2 linked regions of the Homo sapiens genome follow. The protein of the gene in region 1 purifies or fractionates together with the protein of each later gene. This does not show direct contact. Each region holds a gene or a part of one and is shown in the gene's direction. Other genes may lie near its edges. The genes, in order: ELFN1 and ETFB.

Evidence for each region.
Region 2: the proteins of ELFN1 (region 1) and ETFB fractionate together in Homo sapiens (co-fractionation; one large-scale study listed by BioGRID). This does not show direct contact.

The regions. Positions count from the first base shown.
Region 1 is NC_000007.14:1,668,813-1,673,319, forward strand, and holds the start of ELFN1 (protein ELFN1 precursor), read left to right. Parts: upstream 1-1,464; 5' UTR 1,465-1,542; exon of another isoform or gene 1,543-3,369; intron 3,370-4,507. UniProt on the Homo sapiens protein: Postsynaptic protein that regulates circuit dynamics in the central nervous system by modulating the temporal dynamics of interneuron recruitment.
Region 2 is NC_000019.10:51,344,362-51,347,028, reverse strand, and holds the end of ETFB (electron transfer flavoprotein subunit beta), read left to right. Parts: coding exon 1-129; intron 130-1,647; coding exon 1,648-1,818; 3' UTR 1,819-1,860; downstream 1,861-2,667. UniProt on the Homo sapiens protein: Heterodimeric electron transfer flavoprotein that accepts electrons from several mitochondrial dehydrogenases, including acyl-CoA dehydrogenases, glutaryl-CoA and sarcosine dehydrogenase.

The DNA.
Region 1 (4,507 bases):
ACAGCTTAGGTGTTCCAAACCACCGGTGCCCTTCCTGCCGGCCCCTGGGGCTGTGCTGGGTTTCCAGGGCCCCTGCCCCCCAGTATTTGCATGAAATCGTGGGGGCGCACTGGCTTTCGTCCTAGCACTCCCCTTCAAGGCTCTGCACCCCTATCACGGGAGCCCCACCCAGCCAGCCGAAGGAGGCCACAAGCTCTAAATTACTAAATTCGGGCCAGTGCTGGGGGCCTGGGAGCCAAGGCAGCTCAGAGCCCACTCTCCGATTCTGGCTCCTGGAGAACCCTAGGACCCGGGCGTGTCAGGCCCTGCAGCCGGGCTAGGCCGGTCCATACAGGACTGAACGGCGTCGTGGGCGTTCATTCACATTCCCTCTCCGGTCCCCACACACTATAGGATTTATCTTGATTTGCTGCCTTTGAATTGAGTCAACTCTTTTGTATGCTCGTTGAATTGCCCAGCTGCTGGCGGCGAGCGGAGAGCGTGCCGGGGGTACTGAGGCCGGGAACCAGAGGCGGGCGGGGGACAGGAAGCGGGGAGGGGGCGCCGGCGGGGACGCGCGGGCTGCGCGGGGACTGGAGAGGGTCCCCAGGCGCCGGCCGTTCTGCGAACGCGGGCTTGTCCAGGCACCGCCGGGGCCTGCCCGGCCCGAGCGTGGAGTCCCGAGGCTCCTGCCGGGGGTCCAGGCTGCCCCTGGGGCTCTGCCTTCGACGCGCTGTGTAGGGCCAGATTCTGGGCCTCTCTTGACTCAGTTTCCCTTCCTGTAACATGCGGACGGGGGCTTCCGCACAGGCAGGTTGTCAGGGTGAAACTGAGCCGAAGAGTGCTCCAGAACCCCCTGAAGTCCTCACAGAGGTTGGGGTGAATGAAGGAAGGAAGCGGGGCCAGGGCTGGGCAGAGGAGGCCCGGCCTGCGCCCTGCGTTCTCCGCCCCTAGGTCCCTGCCCTCCCGGATAAGGGGCGGACCGACGGGAGGACCTGAGAACGCCTTGGCTTTGCTTGAGGTGGTGGGAGTCGCGGGTAGCTTGTTCAGCCAACAGCTGTCGCCCCCACTCCCCCCACCCACCCACCCACCCCCTCCACCTTTTAGATGTGGGCGGGGAGGGCCGGGGACGGACCGCGAGGACGCCCCCTGCGCTTTCTAGGACCTCCCCTCCTTCCCCAGCCCCTGCGCGTCGCCGGGAGAGGGAAGGAGCGGGTTGCCGCGGGGAGCCGAGGAGAGCAGGGGGCTCGGGAGGCCAGGGAGAGAAGGGGAGGGCCAGAGGCTCCGAGCCGGACTCGCGGCGGAGGAAGAGGGGGTGGAAGGGAGCGCGCAGGCGGGCGAGGGAGCGAGGGAGGGAGAGAAGGAGGGAGGGAGGGAGGGAAGGGGGGCGGGAGGGGGCAGGGCGAGCTTGAATTCCCCCCCGGCCGCGCGGCGAGGGGCGGGGCCGCGCGCGCAGATCGATGGGCGAAGCTGGGGAGGAATTTCAATCCCGGGAGCGAAGTTAGAGCTTGAAGGACGGCGGCGGCTGCGGGCGCAGCCCCGGAACCGAGGCCGGGCGGGCAGGTAAGCGGCGAGCGCGGCCGGGCGCTGAACCTGGGGGACTTGGGACCCGGACCACCCCCGGGGAGCGGCGCGGCCAAGCCCCCCGCCACCTCGAACCCCGGGCGTCCCCGAGTGCGCAGCGTGCGCCCCCAGCCCCTGCTGCGCCCCCAGGCCTGGCGCGCGATCCGAGCGCAGCGGGCAAAGTTGGAGGAACTTGGCGGCGGCGGAGCGGGCGCAGGCTCAGCCCGACAAAGCCCGGGGGCCCGGGTCGGGGTCGCTGCCGCAGCCCGCACGCTGCCCCGTGCCTCCGAGAGGTCCCTTCCCCAGCGCCTCTCTCCCTTCCGTCCCCCTTCGCCGTCCGCACCCTGCCCGGCGCCCCCCAGACGCGGCCCCCTGCCCTTCCCTTCCCGGAAATTAGGGGGCTGTCCTCACCTCCTGGCCGAGTCGCTGACCCCTCCCCAGGCTCGCATCGCCCTCCCTGCTGGGCCGCCCTCCCCCCGACGCTGCGAGCCTCCTCGCTCCGCGCGGGGACCGTCCAGTCACGCACGGGGAGGGGTCACATTCCTCGGTCCCAGCCCCTGAGTCCAACCACTGGCGGGGGGGTGGGGTGGGGGGCTTCGCTCCGAACTGAACTTACTGGGTGCTTTCCACCCCTCGCCCCACCTGGAGTCCATCCTCGTCCTCGTCCCTCTGGGGGCTGGGAGGAGGCTGCCAAGCCTCCGTGCCCCAACCTGCCTCTAAAGACAAGCGCCCCCATTTCCATCCTTTGAAACCTGCAGGTCACCTGCTTGATGCTGAGGGTGGGGCGGGGGGCACTGCCTGCCGTACCGCACACCGCCCCCCCCCCCATAAAAACGACACCCTCTGAGATGAAAATCCGGCTTTTCCAGGTCTCAGCTGTGTGACCTTGGGGCAGGTGAATCTCAGAGCCTCAGTTTCCACACCTGTGAAATGGGGCTAGGATGATCATGCCTTCTGAAAAAAACGAAGGCTTAGCAGAAAGGGTCGAGGCCGGCCGAGCCAGGTGTGCACGTCCTCAAAAAGCCTCCGTGCCAGCACTTTCCCTTCCTGCACACCCGGAGTGGGGCCTCTTTGGACCCTGGCTTGGGCTGGCTGCCTCTGCCGCTCATTCCCTCGATTGGGCTAAGGGCTGTGCGGAGAGCCTGGGGACAGAAGCTGTGGAGGGACCGGGAGCCAGGAGCAGATGTAAATGGCAAATCTCCCCATATTGCCTCTCTCAGGGGCTGCCCCCTAGAGAGGCCCCCAGCCTCCAAAGAGGTCCAGCTTGCACCCAGCCTTGGGGGAAACCCCATTGGGTTGGGCATAGGTTGCTTGAAAAGCATCAACATGCTCCTCTTCTCTGCCTGGCTGGCCCCCTGGCCTCCTGCCCCCTGGGTCCCTGCCCCTGCCACCTTTTAATTGAACAAGCATTGAGAAGACTGGCTTACAGGTCCCAGCCCAGGTTTGCGCCCCACTCCACCAAAGCAGGGGGACAAACTCCAGGGGGCCGTGTGTGGGAGGGGGTCACCCCCTCACCTGGATTTGAGGGGGTTTGGAGCCCAGCCAGGACCCCAGCACTTGGGTCCCTCATTTTCCTGGGCATACGGTGGTCAGGGAGTTCTGATCCCCACCCCTAGTGGGCAGAAGACCTGGGGGTCTCCAAGTCAGAGATTGGGGGCCATGCCCCTCCCCCTGTCCTACAGCCAGCTGTGCAGCCCCCTCCTCCTCGGCCGCAGCAGGACTGCTGTGTGCGTATAATTCAGGATGATACAGCAGGCTCGGCAGGCAGCTCCCGACTCCCAGAAAAGCCAGTGGGCACCTGAACCAGAGCCACACTCCTGAGGCCTGGTAAGTCTGGGGTAAGGGTGCAGGGATGTGGTGGGCACCTGCACCCAGGACCAGAGGAGGGGAGGGAGGGCGGCGTCCCTTCCCCACCATGCCCCAGGACTGCCACTGGAAAGCACTGATTTTTCAAAGTGTCTTTGGAGGCAGGCTCCCCACACCTGGGCCAGGGAGAGGCTGCTGCTCCTCCACCTCCCTACCACGGTCCCCACCAAGAAACAGGTGTCCGGGGTCCCAGCAAGCGCCCAGGGCCAGAGCCTGGAGTAGTTGCCTGTCTCGGACCCCGGCATTTGAATATTTTCACCCTAAATGTATACTTGTAGGCTTCACCTGCTCTCCAGGAGAGAAAAATTAATGGGACTAAAATATGACCACAGTGCCTGAGATCAATGGGGTAAAATCGGAGTGGCTGCCTGGGTCCCATGTTGGTGACTTTCTCTATCTGTTTCCAACACACACGCATCAGCTCTAGATTTTGATAGAATTTTCTAAGCACTCAGGAAAGCCTCCTTCTAAGGTCCCCCTGAGGTCAGAGCCCCCACCCCAGGATCCCTTCCCCCCCGACAAGCCAATTCCCCATTTTGGTAGGGGACTGTGTTTCTCCGTGCCAGACTCAGACACCATCGCATTGGAGGAAATTTATGAGCAGAGGTGCATGGACTTGGGGTGTTCATATATCTTCACAAGAAAGAAACAGGCAGGCCCTCGAGATGCCCGGGTGGGTGGTGCATAAATACACGAGGGGGCCGGTGGCGGGGCGGGGGGCAGGATTAAAAATGCAAGTGAGTGACAGGCGAGAGATAGATAGATCTCCAGGGCTGGGTGATGAGGCCATAAATTTCCAGGCGTGAACCTGGAGCGGATGGTGGCACCGCCGCGGACATTGGATACATTTGTCATCTCTCCAGCGCCCCCCCCCGCTCTTTCCTTTTTGTTTTTGTTGTGGATTTGGTTTCTTCCAGCACAAGCTCAGGTGTCAAGTGGCCTTGGGTGGGTGTTTGTGGGGGTGGCTGGTGGTGGAGCCACTGCAGTGGACGATGGCGCCATCCATTCCAGCACCAGCTGTACAGATGGGGAGACTGAGGCCCGGATTGGGGTGGGGCCGGAGAGGGTGGTGGAGGGGTCCTATGTCTGGCGTCTGTGT
Region 2 (2,667 bases), on another chromosome or scaffold:
GGGGACAAGTTGAAAGTGGAGCGGGAGATCGATGGGGGCCTGGAGACCCTGCGCCTGAAGCTGCCAGCTGTGGTGACAGCTGACCTGAGGCTCAACGAGCCCCGCTACGCCACGCTGCCCAACATCATGGTGAGCCCCTGGCCAGCGGGCACTGAGGGCCTGGGGGTGGCAAGCACATTGCCAGCCCAGTGCCCCCCGGTGGTCGCACGTGGGGAGGGAAGGATCCAAAGGAGGTCTCGTGCACAGGAAGCCGTCACCTGGAGTTTGGCTGATAGAGAGAGTTTGCTGGGTCATCTCTGCCAATACTGAGAGTTCATGGGGGCTGCTTTGGCTAGCAGGGAGGGCTTGCTGGTATCTAGGCCAGTAGAAAGCCTTCGCTGGGCAGCAGAAGGTGTTCCCTTTGTCATTCCAGCCAGTGGAACAAGTTCACTGGGTCATCTAGGTTCATTAGGGAGGGTCCCCTTGGTAATTTTTGCCAATGTGAAGTTACCATGTAGATCATCTTAGTTAACTAGGAAGGGTGCATGGGGTCTCTTGGCTAACAGGTAGAGTTCACTAATCATCATGGCCAGTAGATGGGTTCGCTGGGTCATCTTGGCCAATATTAACAGTTTAGTGGGTCATCTCCGCCAATAGAGAATATTCATCTCAGCCAACAGGGAGGGTTCACTGGATCATCTCAACTAATGGGGAGGGTTCAATGAGTCATTTCAGCCATTACAGAGTGTTCACTACATCATCTCAGCCTATAGGGAGGGTTCAGCGCATCATCTCAGCCTATAGGGAGGGTTCAGCGCATCATCTCAACCTATAGGGAGGGTTCTGCGCATCATCTCAGTCTATAGGGAGGGTTCAGCACATCATCTCAGTCTATAGGGAGGGTTCAGCGCATCATCTCAACCTATAGGGAGGGTTCTGCGCATCATCTCAGCCTATAGGGAGGGTTCAGCGCATCATCTCAGTCTATAGGCAGGGTTCAGCGCATCATCTCAGCCTATAGGGAGGGTTCAGCGCATCATCTCAGCCTATAGGGAGGGTTCAGCGCATCATCTCAGCCTATAGGGAGGGTTCTGCGCATCATCTCAGTCTATAGGGAGGGTTCAGCGCATCATCTCAGCCTATAGGGAGGGTTCAGCGCATCATCTCAGCCTATAGGGAGGGTTCAGCGCATCATCTCAGCCTATAGGGAGGGTTCAGCGCATCATCTCAGCCTATAGGGAGGGTTCAGCGCATCATCTCAGCCTATAGGGAGGGTTCAGCGCATCATCTCAGTCTATAGGGAGGGTTCAGTGCATCATCTCAGCCTATTGGGAGCCTTCAGCATGCCATCTCAACCAAAAGTCCACTGAGTCATTACTACCAAAAGGATGGGTTTGCCACTCTGTTGCAGCCAGTGAAGGGCTTCCTGATTTGGTTACCTAAAGGAGGACTGCTGCAGTAGTTGGGCCTCCCAGGGCCTCCTAGCCAGCAGGAGTTGTCCACACCAGGTGTGGCCCTGTGAGAAGTTTCGCGTGTCCTGGCCAGTGGGTGGGTCCAGAGGGTTCAGCCCATGGGACTGGTCTGCAGGCCTGGCACCCATGGGAAGGAGGTGGCAGGAAGGGTGGCAGGAGTTCCACAGCCCTGTGAACAATGGCTTCCCATGTGCAGAAAGCCAAGAAGAAGAAGATCGAGGTGATCAAGCCTGGGGACCTGGGTGTGGACCTGACCTCCAAGCTCTCTGTGATCAGTGTGGAGGACCCGCCCCAGCGCACGGCCGGCGTCAAGGTGGAGACCACTGAGGACCTGGTGGCCAAGCTGAAGGAGATTGGGCGGATTTGAGCCCCTCCCAGAGATGGCAATAAAACTGACTCTCAACATCTATCTCTGTTAACTTATTTCCTAGAGACCCATTATTTGGTTCATTCAACATTTACTTGAGTCTTTTGTGTGCCAGGCCCTGTGGATCCAGTCCCTGCCCATGAGGAGCCTCTGTATTGATGCGGGGGACAATGAGGACAAAGGCAGCTGTAATTCGGGGTGAAGTATGCTAGACGTGGAGGCACACTGGGCCCTTGGGAACCCAACTGGGGGACCTGGCCTGGCCCAGCCGGTGGGGTCAGAGATTTCCCAGGGAGATGACTTCCAAGTTGAGTGTTGGAACACAAATATCAGTGAGGTGGGTGAGAAGAAGGGCTTTTATCCACGATGTTTGCAGGACACTCATTCTCTCTTGTGTCCCCAGTCTCAGCAGGGACACAGGAGAGAATGAGGCCAGAAGCTGTGGTTCTGGTGTGAGACAGACAAGCCACAGAGAATCAAAACTTAGCGTTGCAATGAACAGCCTGGGTCTACAGTCAGGTTAATTTTTTTTTAATTATGTTTTTTGAGACAGAGTCTCGCTCTGTTGCCCAGGCTTGCACCACCACACCCGGCTAATTTTTGTACTTTTAGTAGAGACGGGGTTTCACCATGTTGCCCAGGCTGTCTTGAACTCCTGACCTCAAGTGATCCGCCCGCCTCAGCCTCTCAAAGTGCTGGGATTACAAGCGTGAGCCACAGCGCCTGGACTAATTTTTTATTTAAAAAATTGTGTTCCATTCCTCTGGCCTTCTGATAGAGTCAGATATATTGATTTCATATGCTCACTCTTACCTTTGCCAGCTAGATCTTGGGTGAGTTCCTTCCTAT